Regions from separate parts of the Homo sapiens genome. Here region 2 is linked to region 1. A link means that fine-mapping ties the variant in region 1 to the expression of a gene that starts in the linked region. Tissue or cell type: nasal epithelium. Region 1 holds a variant in brackets; the other region holds the start of a gene. All regions are shown on one strand. Distances are between the middles of the regions.

Region 1 (8,107 bases):
TGATCCCAGCTACTTAGGAGGCTGAGGTGGGAGGATCACCTGAGCCCAGGAGGCAGAGGTTGCAGTGAGCAGTGATCACACCACTGCACTCCAGCCTGGGCGACAGAGTGAGACCCTGTCTCAAAAAAAAAAAAAAAGAAAAAAATAATTGGCCAGGTGTGTTGGCTCACGCCTATAACCCCAGCACTATGGGAGGCCGAGGCAGGAGAACTGCTTGAGCCCAGGAGTCAGAGAGCAGCCCTGGGCAACAGCGAGATCTCGTCTCTACAAATAATTTAGAAATTAGCCAGGTGTGTGGTGCGTGCCTGTGGTCCCAGCTATTCAGGTGGCTGAGGTGGGAGGATCACCTAAGCCCAGAAGGTTGAGGCTGCAGTAAGCTATTATCACACCACTGCACTCCAGCCTGGGTGATAGAGTGAGGCCCCGGGTGACAGAGTGAGGCCCTGTCTCAAAAATAAAAAATAAAAAAAAAATAGAGAGAAATTGCTTCTAGGCCACATATCCAGTGCATTTCTGGAGCCTCACTAATTTATTTATTTTCCTGACTCCACTCTTCCTCTTCTCTGATCTATATGAATGCTTTTGACAGACTAATCTTTCTAGAACACTTGTATTATATCACTGTCAAGAAATTCTCCTTAAGAACCTACAATCTTTGTTGCCACTTTGGAAATGTGAAATAGTTTTAAATAGTAACAGCCTATACATAAGACAGCTTGTTAGGCAAGACAGTAATTTTTTAATCTTAAGAGTAAGTCTAGGTCAATGCGATGAGCTATAATAAGCAACAGACAGGCCGGGCACAGTGGCTCACGCCTGTAATCCCAGCACTTTGGGAGGCCGAGGCGGGCGGATCATGAGGTTGGGAGATTGAGACCAGCCTGGCCAACATGGTGAAACCCCGCCTCTACTAAAAATACAAAAATTAGCTAGGTGTGGTGGCACATGCCTGAAATCCCAGCTACTCGGGAAGCTGAGGCAGGAGAATCACTTGAACCAGGGAGTCGGAGGTTGCAGTGAGCCAAGATTGCACCACAGCACTCCAGCCTGGCGATAGAGTGAGATTCCGTCTCAAAAAAAAAAAAAAGTAACAGACAAGGGAGTGAGGAATCATCATTCTAGCCTACCCTCTACATCTAACCAAATCTGTGAGCCTCAGTTGTTTATTTTGTAAAATGAAGAAGGTAGCTCTTTCCTGTGTGAAATCTGTGGGCTAGAACAGGACATCTCTTTTAGTTTCTTCCAGTTCTAAGGATGATGACTTTAAAAGGCAAACTCTAAGATGGGAGGATTGCTTGAGGACAGGAGTTTGAGACCCCATCTCCACAAAAAATAAAAACAAAAATTAGTCAGACGTGGTGGCATGCGCCTGTAGTCCCAGCTTCTCAGGAAGCTGAAGCGGTAGGATCGCTTGAGTCCTGGAGTTTGAAGTTACAGTGAGCTATGTTGGTGCCACTGTACTCCAGCCTGGGCAACAGAGTGCGATCCTGTCTTTAAAACAAAACAAAACAAAACAAAACAAAACGAAAACAAAAACAGAAAAACCTCCCCTGCCTGTTTTTTAAGACCGTCTATAATTTAATTCCCCCCACCAACCTGGTCATTTAACCCCCCTAATGCTTGCTTCTCTCCATTGAGTTATTTTCTCTCTGCATCCTCGATGAGGCTGAGTGTCATCTGACCCTGTGCGTATGCTGCTCCCTTCCTCTCTGCCCATCTAAGCACCGTGGCGACTGGTAAGGGGCAGCCTGAGCTGCCTTGGAGAATTTGAAGTATTTTGAAGGACTCACCTGGTTCTGCCACATAGAAGCCCAGTGAATTTAGTAATGTGGAGATGACACAGAGCCCCTCAGTGGGGCAGATGTGAAGATTAAGCAAGATAACACTTGGAAATATTGCTTTGTAAAATGCCATCACCACATCATTTAGTCCTATAATTACTTCATGAGTTATAATAGTTTTGTTTCCCCAGTTAGCTGGCTGGCTGGATTAACTGGTAATTGATTGAGTCAGTCAACAATCTTCACATAAGGTAAAGAATCATATGAAGTTGCTGATGTTTGACTGCTTTTGATCTATTAAAAAAAAACCCAGCAATTTGCATGCAAAGCCATGTAAAGTACTGTAAAAATACTTGCTATTCTTTCCACTCAACTTGATCAAATCCTCCAAGGCAGAGGAAGCTAAGGTCTGAGAGTGAGAGTTTAAATCACCTCACTGATGGGAGGTAAAGGCCACATTTTCTTTCAGCAGTATTTGCAGTGATTTGAGGGGAAAACCTACACCCAGAGGAGTGGCACATTCTAAACAATGACCACACCCTTTGGGAAGGCTGGTCCCTGGGGGATGGGAGTGACAGAGCAGCATGTGGCTCCAAGCTGGTATGAGGCACTGAAGAGTTGGAATTCTATCTGTATCTCAGCCTGTGATTTCATCCGCATCACCCAGAAGACTCCTAGTATTTAGAAGGATAGATCTGAGACTAAGGTTTTGGGCCTCCTTACTTCAACTTTCTTTTTTTTTTTTCTTTGGAAATGGAGTTTCACTCTTGTTGCCCGGGCTGAGTGCAGTGGTGCCATCTTGGCTCATTGCAACCTCCGCCTCATGGGTTCAAGTGATTCTTCTGCCTCAGCCTCCTGAGTACCTGGGATTACAGGTGCATGCCACCATACTGGGCTAATTTTTTTGTATTTTTGGTAGAGATGTTGTTTCACCACGTTGGCCAGGCTGGTCTCAAACTCCTGACCTCAAGTGATCCTCCTGCCTTGGCCTCCCAAAGTGCTGGGATTACAGGTGTGAGCCACCATGTCTGGCCTCTTTTTTTGTCTGTTTTTTTTTTTTTTTAGATGATCTTGCTCTGTTGTCAAGACTGGAGTGCAGTGGCATCATCATGGCTCACTGCAAACTTGATCTTCCATGCTCAAGTGATCCTCCTACCTCAGCCTTCTGAGTAGCTGGGACTACCAGTGTGTGCCACCAGGCCCAGCTAATTTTTTATTTTTCGCAGAGGCGGGGTCTCACTATGTTGCTCAGGCTGGTCTTAAACTCCTGGGCTCAAGCCATCCGCCTGCCTTCCGCTCCCAAAGTGCTGGGATTACAGGTGTGAGCCGTTGCACCTGGCCTCAACTTTTCACGAGGGAACTAGAGACAAGCCCTTTATTTAGCCAAGAGTTTAGAAATCCAGGTATTTTCACTATTTCCATAGAATTTAGTCCTTGTCTGAACTGTGTCACTGTGCAGCACGTGGAGGGTTTTGTGGGGAGAGAGAATGTGAGTTTTGACATCAAACAGATCTGGTTTAAAATCCTGTCTCTGCCCTTTACCAGATATGTCATCTTGGGGAAATTACTTAGTTTCTTCAATTCTCAATTTTACCATCTGAACAATGGGATTAAAAAAACGCTAGAATTTTCATGAATACTAAATGAGATAATATTGGAAAAATGGCTGGTATATTATCTGACATATAGTAAGCCCCCAAGTGGCAGCTATTATTGTTATCCTAATATTATTCTAAAATATGAGGGTGAGCAGACTAGGTCATAATATTTATATGTGAGTTTTTCAAATAAGGGAAGCTTTACTTGGTGATCCTGGTGACTTTGCTCTAGGCCAGGCTGTTCAACACAGTTGCACATCAGGGCGGTGGTGCTTGTCGGAGTTCAGCTCCCCTTGTGAGGTGCTGCATGGCTCCAGTGTGAGCCTGATTCGGCAACACAGGGCTTCTATTAACCACACAGCCCCCTTATTACTCAGTCATGTCTTCTGTTAAGCACACAGTCCCCTTATTACTCAGTCATGTCCTTCATTCCGGACTGGGTCTGGGATGCCATCCCCAGACAGGGTTTAACTCATGGAAAAGTCAACCAATGTCTCTACAATGTGCTGCATGGACCACGGATCACAAGGTTGGGACATCCTAGTTTCTACTGACCAACTCCATCAAGCCGGAGGAGCACCAGCTTGGCCCCTTTATGCACACTGTGGAACAGTTACTTGGGCTCCAGAGGGAGTCTGGCGGTTGCATGTTCCCTGTTTCCTTCCATCTTCATTTCTGCATTGTGAGAGGGCAGTGGGTCTGGCTGAGAAGGGGGTGCAAAGCTGGGAGGGTGGGCGGGGAGCTTGGCCCAGGCCGACCTCCCTTGCCTTTGTAAGGGCTCTGGGAGGAAGGAGTTCTGCTGGGCCCCAGTTGCCCTCCTCCCTCCTTGCCCCCATCCACACTGGAAGGTGCCTTTCGGAGGAGCTTAGTTTAATGAGTTCCTGGGCTGAACCTCTCTGGACTGCTCCCACTCCTGTGGTCACTAACAACAGCACACTGGGGAGTGGGCGGAACTCCGAAACCAAGCCCATCTGTTTTGTCTCTTTAGATTCAAGACAGATGTTCCCACAATCTGGCGACAAAACTGCAGTCCTTGGAGAGACTGTGGGTGCCCTGAGTTTGCGGGTGGGGATAGGGGTCTACTGATGTGCAGTGACAGCGAGGTGGCGGACTTCTCCAGCTTCCTTGCAAAGCCCTGGGGAGCCAGGGCAGGCCCTGCTGGAATCCTGCAACAGGCGCCGCACCCTGCCATACACCTTCAGCAAATACGACAGGAA[C/T]GTAAAACTTCCTGCCCTAATCCGTTTAAACTTAAAGCCTAGTAGGAGGTCACTATAGTGTTAGATTTTTGGGTCTGTTTTTTTTTTTTTCTATTTCAGAAAGATTTGTTTGTTTGTGAAGATCTTAAGGCCCAAATACCGAGAGCTAGAGTCTGTGCTGGTAAAATGAAGGCTGAAAATGACAAATGTTAGAAGTGAGCAAATAAGTTTATTATATATAATAGAAAAAAGCAAAATGTTAAATTTGACTTTGCGATGCATGGAATAATCTGCTGATGTTGGATGATGATGCCACCTCCTTGAAAACTCCCTTTCTAGGGAACAATAATTGCTAACATTATTGGGCACATATGATGTGGCAGGCTCTGTTCTATTATAAATACTTTTCATGTATTAAATCGTTTATTCCCCACGACAGCCTAATGAAAAAATGACTATTGTTATCTCTACTTTCTAAGTGAGGAAACTGAAGCGCAGCATGATTAAGCAACTTGCCCAAGGTTGCAGAGCTCATAAACGGCAGATCTGGGCCCAGGCAGCCTGGCTGTGTGCGCTACCCCTAGCAGGCTGCATTGTCTGTCCAATATAAGGCCTGTAAGATCGTGGCCAAGTCCTTCAAACTCCCTTTCTAGGGTACTTTCAAAGTACAGCTTTGTACTTCTCCTCTCCCAGTCCCTGAGCAAGAGTAGTGGGGTGGGCATGTTAAATACTTATGAGTAAGTGAATGCATTAATGCAAGATTTATAGTATGGTCAGCTGGTAGCAGCAAACCTTTTCTGTTAAGAAGCCCTTCCATGTTTTATCCAAAATACTTGCCCTTCTTACCACAGTAGCCCATGGCTAGTTACTCATTAGCTTCCTAGTACCTATGGGCCTTTTCCTATTCCAAGACCCCAGCTCTCTCCTTTGCTCTCATCAGCACAGTCCTCTCCTCACGTGTCCCACTTTGAGTTCTTCCTAAGATCCAGCACAAAAATACTCGGATGGGATTTCCATTTAACATGGCTTTTCATTACATGGTTTTGCTTATTACACGGATCAAATCAAGTTCTGAAACCATAATTACATTGGGAAAGGCTGCTCGCCAGCCCCAGAGTCAGTAGGGAGGGTGGAGTTGTGGGTGCACTGACAACTTTTCAGTGAAAACAGTTAAGACTGTGTTATCTCACAGAGGAAGCAGGGAAGCTGTGACTATTCTTCCCATATTAGAGATTAGAGAACATATGTAGGAACATATTAGGAACAGAGATGTGGCTTGTCCAAGCTTCCATGGGTGGAGCTCAGGGATCTCCTGAATTGTGGCTGGAGCCGCAGATGGAAGGCCTTCCTCTTCCTACTGTGTGGCAGCCTCATGACTTCCTAGACATCTCTGCCTCTCCCCTAACCCTCTCAGGCCATTCCTTGCCCTGGCAGATGGCTACTGCCAAGATTCTACCTTTGCGGAGGAAGGAAGGCTATGATGTATTTGTTCATGCACTGGTTCATTCATCCTGACTTTTTTCGCTCTTTCACAGAACCAGACAGTGGGGCAAAATCCAAGGTGGTGCTGGAGCGTCTCAATTCTATGGGATTCTCCTGTCAGCTCAGGATCAGAGTCATCCCATAACGAAAAGCTTTTCTACCATTTGCCTGGAACTGGGGCCTAGACCAGATGACATGGGTCTCTTCCAGGTCCCCCAGATGCTTAGGTTGGGTCCAAGTTACACTGAAAACGGTCCAGTGAATTTCCAGTCTGGTCCACACCCATCATTCCTGGAGCTGAGTGACTCAGGGCTCCAGAAGATACCTCAGTGCTAAGTCATCATCCCCGAGAGAAGAATGTTTCACGTTCAGGGATTCTGTCACCTGTGCTCTGGAAGCAAGTTCTAGGCCTTTTCACCCCAGCTTTCACTTTCATCCTGGGGTTTGCTATGGGAGCTGGCATTCTGCTACCCCATTTCCAGCTCTAGTGTAGTGACATTGCTGCGTTCTGTTTAGACTGTTTAGTGGGTCATGGCATCCTTGACCACCTCCTCCCTTTAGCCAATTTTTGATTTATTAAACAAAGTAGAGAGAAGAAACGTAGATGGCGTACATGGGATTTAGGGTATGGGGCTGTCTGCATGGCCTGGAGGCTGACCTACAGGAGATTGTGGGCGCAGCTCTCACTCACATGTTGTGGGTGTGTACACACCACATGGCTCAGCCCTCATTCATGGATCCTTCGGGTCTCAGTCCCCATTCATGGATCCTTTGGGTCTCTGTCCCTTGTGCTTTGATGCTACTGAGCTCTGGAACTTTAAGTCCGTAGCTGAGTTCTGTTCTGCCCACAGGTGACGCAGCTTCTGAATCTGAAACGCTGCTCTGGGTGATTTAGCACTGAGGTATCTTCTGAAGCCCTGAGTCAAAAATCTTTTCAGCGACTCAGCCATAGGCATCTAGGAAGACAAGCTTCCAGATTCACTGAGAACAGACTGTATGTACTGACATGCTGACATTAACTCCCATTCCCTGTAGGGACTTTCTCATGTGGAAGAGCAAATGCTGAGTGCTGGCAGGACCCTGGCAGTTTGATGATTTCCAGTGTTACCATTAGTCACTATGTGTACATTCTGAAGGTCCTCGTGTGGCCACTGCAGGGCACCAGCCTTTGGAAACAAATACACAGCTTTTGAGAAGCTGCTCATCTTTCATATATATGTGTCTAACTTTGATACACAATACATGTATATTTTTATTATATTAATAAATCATAAGTAACCTAAATGTCTACCCACAAGAGAATGATTAGATAAATTGTGGTGTACCCATAAATGGAATAATCTGTAGTCATTAAAAATCAGGCTTGGCAAACAAAAACATAAAGTGCGGAAAAGACTGCCTGTTCAACAAATGGTGCTGGGATAATTGGCTAGCCACATACAGGATAATGAAACTGGATCCTCATCTCTCACCTTATACAAAAATCAACTCAAGATGGATCAAGGACTTAAATCTAAAGCCTGAAATTATAAAAATTCTCTAAGATAACATTGGACAAACCCTTCTAGACATTGGCCTAGGCAAAGATTTCATGACCAAGAACCCAAAAGCAAATGCAACAAAAACAAAGATAAATAGCTAGGACTTAATTAAACTGAAGAACTTTTGCACAGCAAAAGGAACAGTCATCAGAGTAAACAGACAACCCACAGAGTGGGAGAAAATCTTCACAATCTATACATCTGACAAAGGACTAATATCCAGAATCTAAAAAGAGCTCAAACAAATGAGCAAGAGAAAAACAAACAGTCCTATCAAAAGTGGGCTAAGGACATGAATAGACAATTCTCAAAAGAAGATATACAAATGGCCAACAAACATATGAAAAAATGTTCAACATCATTAATGATCAGGGAAATGCAAATCAAAACCACAACATGATATCACCTTACTCCTGCAAGAATGGCCATAATCAATAAATAAAAAAATAATGGATGTTGGTGTGGATGCGGTGAAAAGGGAACATTTCTACACTGCTGATGGGAATGTA
Region 2 (8,107 bases), 270 kb before region 1:
GAGGTTGCAGTGAGCCAAGATGGCGCCACTGCACTCCGGCCTGGGCAACAAGACGGAAACTGTGTCTCAAAAAAAAAAAAAAAAAAAAAAAAAAAGATTATAGAGAAACAACCAAATGATTTTTCTAATGATAAAGTCTTTTAGACTTTATCTGATTAAAGAAAGTCTGATTAGCAGACTGTGAACTGCTAATCAACAGAATCTGGAGACATGCCACTAAATCTGAGTCACTGTCAACATGTGAGTCCACACCTACAGGAGGGGTGGTTCCTTGTATGAAAAACAGCCTCAGTAAATCACTGAAACTCTGCTGGCAAACATTTTTAATGCAAGTAATGCACCTCAATTTCACCCCCCTGCTTACAATCCTGTTTGAAACAATTCCAAACAAATGACCAAGAAACCACTTTGGACCAAAAGAAAGCTGGTATCTTACAGTAACAAATACTGTAGCTTGAATGCAGTTCTCCATGAGAAATTAGTGAAAGGGAGCATCCATTCCCTTAGAAATCAGTTAATATTGCCATTAATAAGAGGTTGGGCAACTGGGCACGGCAGCTCACGCCTGTAATCCCAACACTGTGGGAGGCCAAGGTGGGTGGATCACTTGAGGTCAGGAGTTATGGCAAAACCCTGTCTCTACTGAAAATACAAATATCAACCAGGCATGGTGGTGGGTGCTGGTAATCCCAGCTACTTGAGAGGCTGAGGCATGAGAATCACTTGAACCTGGGAGGTGGGGGTGGGGGTTGCAGTGAGCTGAGATCGCGCTGCTGCACTCTAGTCTGGGCAACAAGAGGGAAACTCCGTCTCAAAAAAGAAAGAAAGAAAGAAAAGAGGTAGGGGAACCCTTTTTTATAGAGCTTTGCTCAGGAACCAAAAATTCAAGTTTATTTTAAACCTTTCGTCTATGCTTGAGGTATCTGGATTTCTGCTTTTAATATCATATTGTAAAGATTTAAAGAGAAAACATCTCTGTAGACATTGTTAATTTTGTAAATACTGATGTAATTTCTTGTGTTTTTCCATATCATCTACTGAAACTAAATAGCTCAGAATTAAAAAAAAGAGCCCTTTTATTTTGCCAGTCTATAAAGCTTCTGATGACAGGTAGAAGAACCTGGTGGTTAAGGACTTAGGTTTTGAGGTCGGTGGATGTGAGATTGAATCGTGGACAGGTTTTGAGGTCGGTGGATGTGAGATTGAATCGTGGACAAGATCTCAGTTTGTATAAAGGCATGTATATCGGCCTCATTTATACATATTCTTAGAGGGCTGTGAGAAGTAAATGTGTTTATATGTATAGAATTTAGTACCCATGGCCAGGCGCAGTGGCTCATGCCTGTAATCTCAGCAGTTTGGGAGGCCAAGGCGGGTGGATCACTTGAGGTCAGGAGTTCGAGAGCAGCCTGGCCAACATGGTATGAAACCCCGTCTCTACTAAAAATACAAAAATTAGCCAGGCATGGTGGTGCGTGCTTGTCAATCCCAGCTACTCAGGAGGCTGAGGCAGGAGAATTGCTTGAGCCCAGGAGGCAGAGGTTGCAGTGAGCTGAGATTGCGCCACTGCACTCCAGCCTCGGCAGCAGAGCGAGACTCTGTCTCAAAACAAAAACAAACAAACAAAAAAGAATTCAGTACCCACGCTGGCTCAGATGTTGATGGTTACTGTTGTGAATCTGGCTCTACGGGGACCAGTCACTTCATCACTCTTTAAAGACAAGACACTCCTAAATTATCTACCAGGCCATTTTATTTAGAAGGCCTTAACATGATTGATACATTTAATTTAATTTTATTTTTTTGAGACAGAGTGTTGCTCTTGTCCAGGCTAGAGTGCAATGGCACCATCTCAGCTCACTGCAACCTCTGCCTCCTGGGTTCAAACGATTCTCTTGCCTCAGCCTCCCAAGTAGCTGGGATTACAGGTGCCCGCCACCATGCCTGGCTAATTTTTGTATTTTAGTTGAGATGGGGTTTCACCATGTTGGTCAGGCTGGTCTAGAACTCCTGACCTCAAGTGATCCACCCACCTCGGCTTCCCAAATTGCTGAGATTATAGGCATGAGCCACCTCACCTGGCCGATGCATTTAAATGTGGGATTAAATATTCACACCTAGTTCAAGTGTTCACATCTGTACTTGAAACTAAAACTTGTTAACAAGGCATAAATACTGTATTAGTCTGTTTTCATGCTGCTGATAAAGACATACCCGAGACTGGGCAATTTACAAAGGAAAGGTTTATTGGACTTACAGTTCCACATGGCTGGGGAGACCTCACAATCATGGCAGAAGGTAAGGAGGAGCAAGTCACATATCACGTGGATGGCAGCAGGCAGAGAGAGCTGGTACACGGAGACTCCTGTTTTTAAAGCCATCAGATCTCGTGAGACTTATTCACTATCATGAGAACAGCACAGGAAAAACTCATCCCCAAGATTCAATTACCTCCCATTGGGTTCCTCCTAGGACACATGGGGATTGTGGGACTTACAATTCGAGATGAGATTTGGGTGGGGACACAGCCAAACCATATCAAATACTGTTTAATTTGAGTCTAGGAGAAATCTTAAGGCCTTAAACTTAGACTTTATAAAAGCAGAGGCTAGCTCCATCTGGACTGTTTATTCCTTCAGAATATTATGCCTACTTGTATTCCCAATGCCTGACTCAGGGCTCTCCCATAGTCAGTGCTCAATGAATATTGGTAAGGAAAAAAATGGTTCAGTGAGGAGATTTTTGCAGTAATTCAGGTGACTGATGACATTTGACCTTTGTGAATGAATCTCCAATTCTGCAATTGGGTGGATTCTCTGCCTATAGGTACAAGAGGAAGAGGACGAGAAATATTTCCTGTTCTCTCAATAACTTTCCAAATAACATGTCATAAGAAGCCTCCTCATTCTACTCTCCAACATATTAAAAGCCTAGGATTGAGCCAGGTGCAGCGGCTAACGCCTCTAATCCCAGCACTTTGGGAGGCCAAGGCAGGCGAATCTCTTGAGCTCAGGAGTTTGAGACCAGCCTGGGCAACTAAGTGAGACCCCCGCCCTGCCAACCCCCTCTACAAAAAATACAAAAAGTTAGCTGGGCGTGGTGGCATTTGTCAGTAATCCCAGCTACTCAGGAGGCTGAGGTGGGAGAATCGCTTGAGCCTGAGAAGCGGAGGTTGTAGCGAGCTGAGATTGAGATTGTGCCACTGCACTCCAGCCTGGGCGACAGGGCGAGACTCCATCTCAAAAAAAAAAAAAAAAAAAAAAAAAAAGGCATAGGTCCATAGCCCTTTAGAACTGGAAGAAGCCTTCTAGGCCAAGCCCTTCATTTGAACTGAGCCTTGACGGGTATTAGCCGTTAGCCATTTGTGGAAGGTCGCACAGTAGTCAGGACTGGAAGTCTGGTCTTTGAAACCTGTCAGTCCACGGTCATTTCACCTGCCTGTTTGTAAAACAATGTCCTGTTACTTAAGTATACTTTTTAATAAGAAAAACTGGGTGTAAGCAAGAGTATCAGAGTGGTGTTCTGGTGCCAGCAGTTCAACTTCTGCAGCGTGTACTTCACAGGCACAGGTACTTAGGACGTCGCACAGGCACAGGTACTTAGGACGTTGCCCCGCCGAGACTGTCGTTCATATCGCGCCCACCTCCGGGTAACGCCGGTAATGCTGACCTAGCTCCATTATTTGTATTAATTTATTTAGCTAGCAGGGGGAACGGCTGGGTAATGCAGTCTCAGCTGCTGGAGGGGAAGAGGCAAGACTCCGCCGGCGCCCACCATCAGAGCGTGACAACAAGCGGGACCGGAGGTTGGGAAAAAGCACAGGGACAGAATGAATGTGTGCATGGGGGAGCTCTGCTGGGGAGAGGGCAAGAGGCTGTGATCAGATTATCTGAGGTTTCAGAACTTTTATATAAAGACCAAGGAACCAAATGAAAATCCAACTCTTCCAGGGAGCCCTGGAAAGTTCAAAGGACCTCGTTTGAGGGAGCGAGTCCCCGCAGCTCGTGCCCACGTCTCCCTCGCGCTTCCCCCAGGACAGGGGCCGCCCCAACCCGGGCACGCTGAGCCCGGCCGCGCCCCTAGCCCCTTCTCTCTCGGCCTCCTCGTCCCGAAGGGAAGCACAGGCTCGAGCAGCATTCGGGGCTCATCCATCAGCCGCGGAGGCAAAGGGGGAGGAGAGAGGAGGCGGGAGGCGGGAGGCGGGAGGAGGAGTTTCTGGGCGGCCGAGAGCCCCCGGTGGGGCCGGCGGAGGAGCGCCCTTCCCCCCGCGCGCTGATTGCTGTGGCGTCCTGCCCGTCCCCGCCCGCGTGTGTGCGAGGGAGGGCGAGTGCGCCGGGTCGGCCTGATGGGGGTAATCGAGGGTTTCGGGGACGCCGAGCGGCACTTTCCTCTTCCCAGCGAGTGAAGGAGGGCAGTCGGCGGCTCTCGCGCCCCGGCCACTTTCCCTGCGCGATTCCCGGAGCTCCCTGCAGGAGGTGAGAGTCCCCAGCGGGTCCGGATGGCGTAGTTTTGCCGCGGCGCAGCAGCTGCCGGAGCTCGCCGCCGCCGAGCGCTGGGCGGGGAAACTTGCCGCCGCTTTCCTCCAACTTGCTGCGGGTGGATCTCCGCTGGACACACCGCCTCCGAGGTACGTGCCGGCCCAGCCCCGCGGCGCTGCAGCCCGCCCGGGCTGTGGGCTCTGCAGGCTGCGCGGGTGCCCGTCGGCGCGGCGCGGGCTGCCAGTGCCTACTTACCGGCCAGGGTCGCTCCAGCCGCCAGGACCTCCGGCCTTGGGAGGGAGGCGCTGGTGGGGCGGTGTTTACCCTCCGGGGAGCAGGCACCGGTGGCCAGCGGTGCGTGGGCAGCGGCCGCACGGGGCAGGCAGTGCCCCCGGCGATGCGCAGTGCTGGGGAGGAATTCTCCACGCCCGCCCTCACTCTTCCTCTCCGCGGGTCCTTCTGACCCCTGCGGGGCGCGGCGGCCACTTCCCTCCGGGCGCGTGACAGCTTCGGTGGGAATGGTTTGTTGTGGGTTCGCAGTCAATTGCCGTGGCCCAGGCTGTGGCTCCCGGACTCGTGCACGGACGCGGTTTGCGTTCCCCGCTGGCCGCGCCCTCAGGGTGCCTTGCGGGCTGAGCCGCAAGCTGCAGCTCGGCCCCCCCCCGCCCCGGTTTATTTTGAAGGCTCTCTTCTTGTATTCATTTGGTTAGGACAAACTTGGAAATCTTGGACTGTCGCTAGAAGAATCTGCTTGCAGACTTGATCTTATTAGGGCATTTGCCCCGCTTTGCAGAATCGCATAGTGTCAGGAGCCGACGTGTCAAGCATGAATTACCTTGGCAAAGTAGAACTTAGTGGATTTGGTGTCCTCACGAAAAGCTGGAAGAAGAAAACCGTTCCATTTCCCTAGCTGTGAAGTGAGGATAGTAGTACTTGCCCCGTAAAGTTGCTGTGAGCATCTAATGATTTAATGTGTGTGAGGTGCTACAACAGTGCTTGGCACCGAGTAAGCACCGCACGGAGGTTAGCGCTGCTTGCCGCTAGCCCTGCGGTGGCAGGATAGGAGCGGCGAGGGCAGAGGATAGTAGGAGTGACAGGCTGTGCTGGGGAACCAGGCGTATTCTGAGTTTTATGTCCTTCCGAAGAAGTGAGCGGTTTGGGAGAAGTCTCCACAGGTAGTAAAAACACACGTCAAGACCGTTTCTTCTTCCTGAATGCAGAGTGCAAACAGTTACTTCAGTGTGAACTCAGTTGTTTCTTTTGGATAATAATAACAGCTAACGTTTTCTAAGCCCATACTGTGTGCACTTAATCCTCACAGCATCTCTATGGGAAAAGCACTATTAATAACCCTATTTTACAGATAAGACACTAGAGGTTAAGTTACTTGTCCAAGATCATACATAACTTTCTGTTAGTTCTGACTCCAAAGCTACCTTCCTTCCTCAGCGGAGAGCGGCAAGTGCAGGCCGATTTGTGTGTACATAGATTTGTGTGCATAGTCCATGCATCTTCTCCCATCTTTCAGCTTTCTATTTGAGCTGAACGCATATCTCTTGAAACACACATAAGGTATCTGTGATGAATTTAGGCGATTTTACATACTTATGAGGGTGCCCAATTAAAGTTCCTCTGAAACTGGCCCCAAATAATTATAAATAGAACTCTGACTTGTATTAATTAACATGGAAATTTTTTTTTTTTTTTGGTGACAGAGTCTCGCTCTGTCCCCAGGCTGCAGTGCAGTGGTGCGATCTCGGCTCACTGCAACCTCCACCTCCCGGGTTCAAGAGTTTCTCCTGACTCAGCCTCCAGAGTAGCTGGGACTACAGGCGCGCGCTACCACGCCCAGCTAACTTTTGTATTTTTAGTAGAGACGGCGTTTCACCATGTTGGCCAGGATGGTCTCGATTTCTTGACCTCGTGATCCACCTGCCTCGGCCTCCCAAAGTGCTGGGATTACAGGTGTGAGCCACCACGCCTGGCCAACATGGATCTTTATTCTTAATTTCTTTTATTAATTCTCCAGACATTGTTGATCACCATTACTTGGCTTCCTTAGGAAACAGCTTGGGGTTGGCACAGGAGGCAGGGAAATAATTCTTACCCCCTTAAGGGCTATTAACATGAAATTGATTTCATGCCATTGTGTCAGTTAAAGGATGTTGCTCTATTTCTTGCTGTTCTTTGCTTTTGGCTTTATTTCTGCATTGTTTAGTGTTTCAAGGCTTGAGCGTTTTTTTTTTTTGGCCCTTCAGTTTGACATTTGTCAACTTTAATTTTTCCTGTTTTGATGGAATCTGACCGTTACACGGCAGCTTTGCCTAACAACTGTTGATTCAGCTCATGTTTTTAAATATAAAAATCACCAACATAGTTTTGAATCCCAGCACTTCAAAGGCAACCCGTGGGGAGTTCATTGTTATTTTGAATATTAGTCAATAGGGGGAGCATAACACACTGTTGATATCTATAAGGCGCATAAACCCGTTTTTAGAGTATTAAACATATAGTTTGAAAGGGGAGGGCAAAATATCTAGCAAAATAACTAAGTTGCTTTTGGAGTTTATAATGGAGGACTAGATTTAATTTGAACTGATTAAGAATGACCTTGAGGACAGGGCCTGTATGTTGAATATATGTCAAGAACTCCATGGTGGCTGGACAGATAGATAAACACACATATAGTTTTTTTTCAATTTGTTTCCTTAAGTGGTGTGTAGGCCAGGCACAGTGGCTCACACCTGTAATTCCAACACTTTGGGAGGCTGAGGTAGGAGGATCACTTGGCCAAGGAGTTCGAGACCAGCCTGGGTAACATAGTGAGACCCCCATCTCTTTAAAAAGTGAAGTTTGTATGTAAACTAATTTTGTGTGGTTTGAATAATATTTCAACTTACCTGGGAGAAATGGAAATCCAGAGGAATTTGTTGTGAATCCTTTTGTAATGATCCTCATTTGTGTTTTGTAGAAAACTGAATATAATGAATTTGTTCTCAGGGAGGTTGGTGTGTTCACAATCCTGTCATCATCTTTCATTAACATCTTCTAAGTGCAAGACAATAGGGGATCAGTAATCCTAAATAACAGCAGTTCTATTACTGTGAATTCCTCAGAGGCTTACGTTAATATTCAAGTATAGTAGTAGTTCAGATGTATCATATTTGATACTAGTATAAGTGTGATGTGTCTATGAATACTCATACTTGTAAACATAAACAATAAGAATATGCTTGAAAAAATCACACTTGACATTTATCTATTTATTTATTTATTTTTTGAGATGGAGTCTCTCGCTCTGTCGCCCGGGCGGGAGTGCAGTGGTGCAATCTCAGCTCACTGCAAGCTCCACCTCCCAGGTTCACGCCATTCTCCTGCCTCAGCCTCCCCAGCAGCTGTAACTACAGGCACTCGCCACCATGCCCGGCTAATTTTTTTGTATTTTTAGTAGAGACGGGGTTTCACCGTGTTAGCCAGGAAGGTCTCGATCTCCTGACCTTGTGATCCGCCTACCTCAGCCTCCCAAAGTGCTGGGATTACAGGCGTGAGCCACGGTGCCTGGCCAAACTTGACTTTTAAAAAAAGTTTTTGGCTGGGTGTGGTGGCTCACGCCTGTAATCCCAGCATGT

Evidence for each region. PIP is the estimated chance that this variant, and not a neighbour inherited with it, causes the effect.
Region 2: TGFBR3 starts here. The variant in region 1 is fine-mapped to the expression of TGFBR3 in nasal epithelium (TOPMed, PIP 0.92).

Annotation. Positions count from the first base shown.
Region 1 is chr1:91,608,030-91,616,136 of GRCh38, reverse strand. No RefSeq gene overlaps it. Among named protein-coding and RNA genes, the nearest start is that of CDC7, 110 kb to the right of the region's middle. RefSeq lists enhancers at 3,896-4,395, 4,396-4,897. The variant C/T (reference allele first, on the strand shown) is at 4,597.
Region 2 is chr1:91,882,398-91,890,504 of GRCh38, reverse strand. TGFBR3 (transforming growth factor beta receptor 3) reads left to right here and starts at 4,354. Exons shown (of 17, transcript NM_003243.5): 1 at 4,354-4,627. RefSeq lists silencers at 4,088-4,227, 4,578-4,657, 4,668-4,877 and enhancers at 4,020-4,782, 4,783-5,546.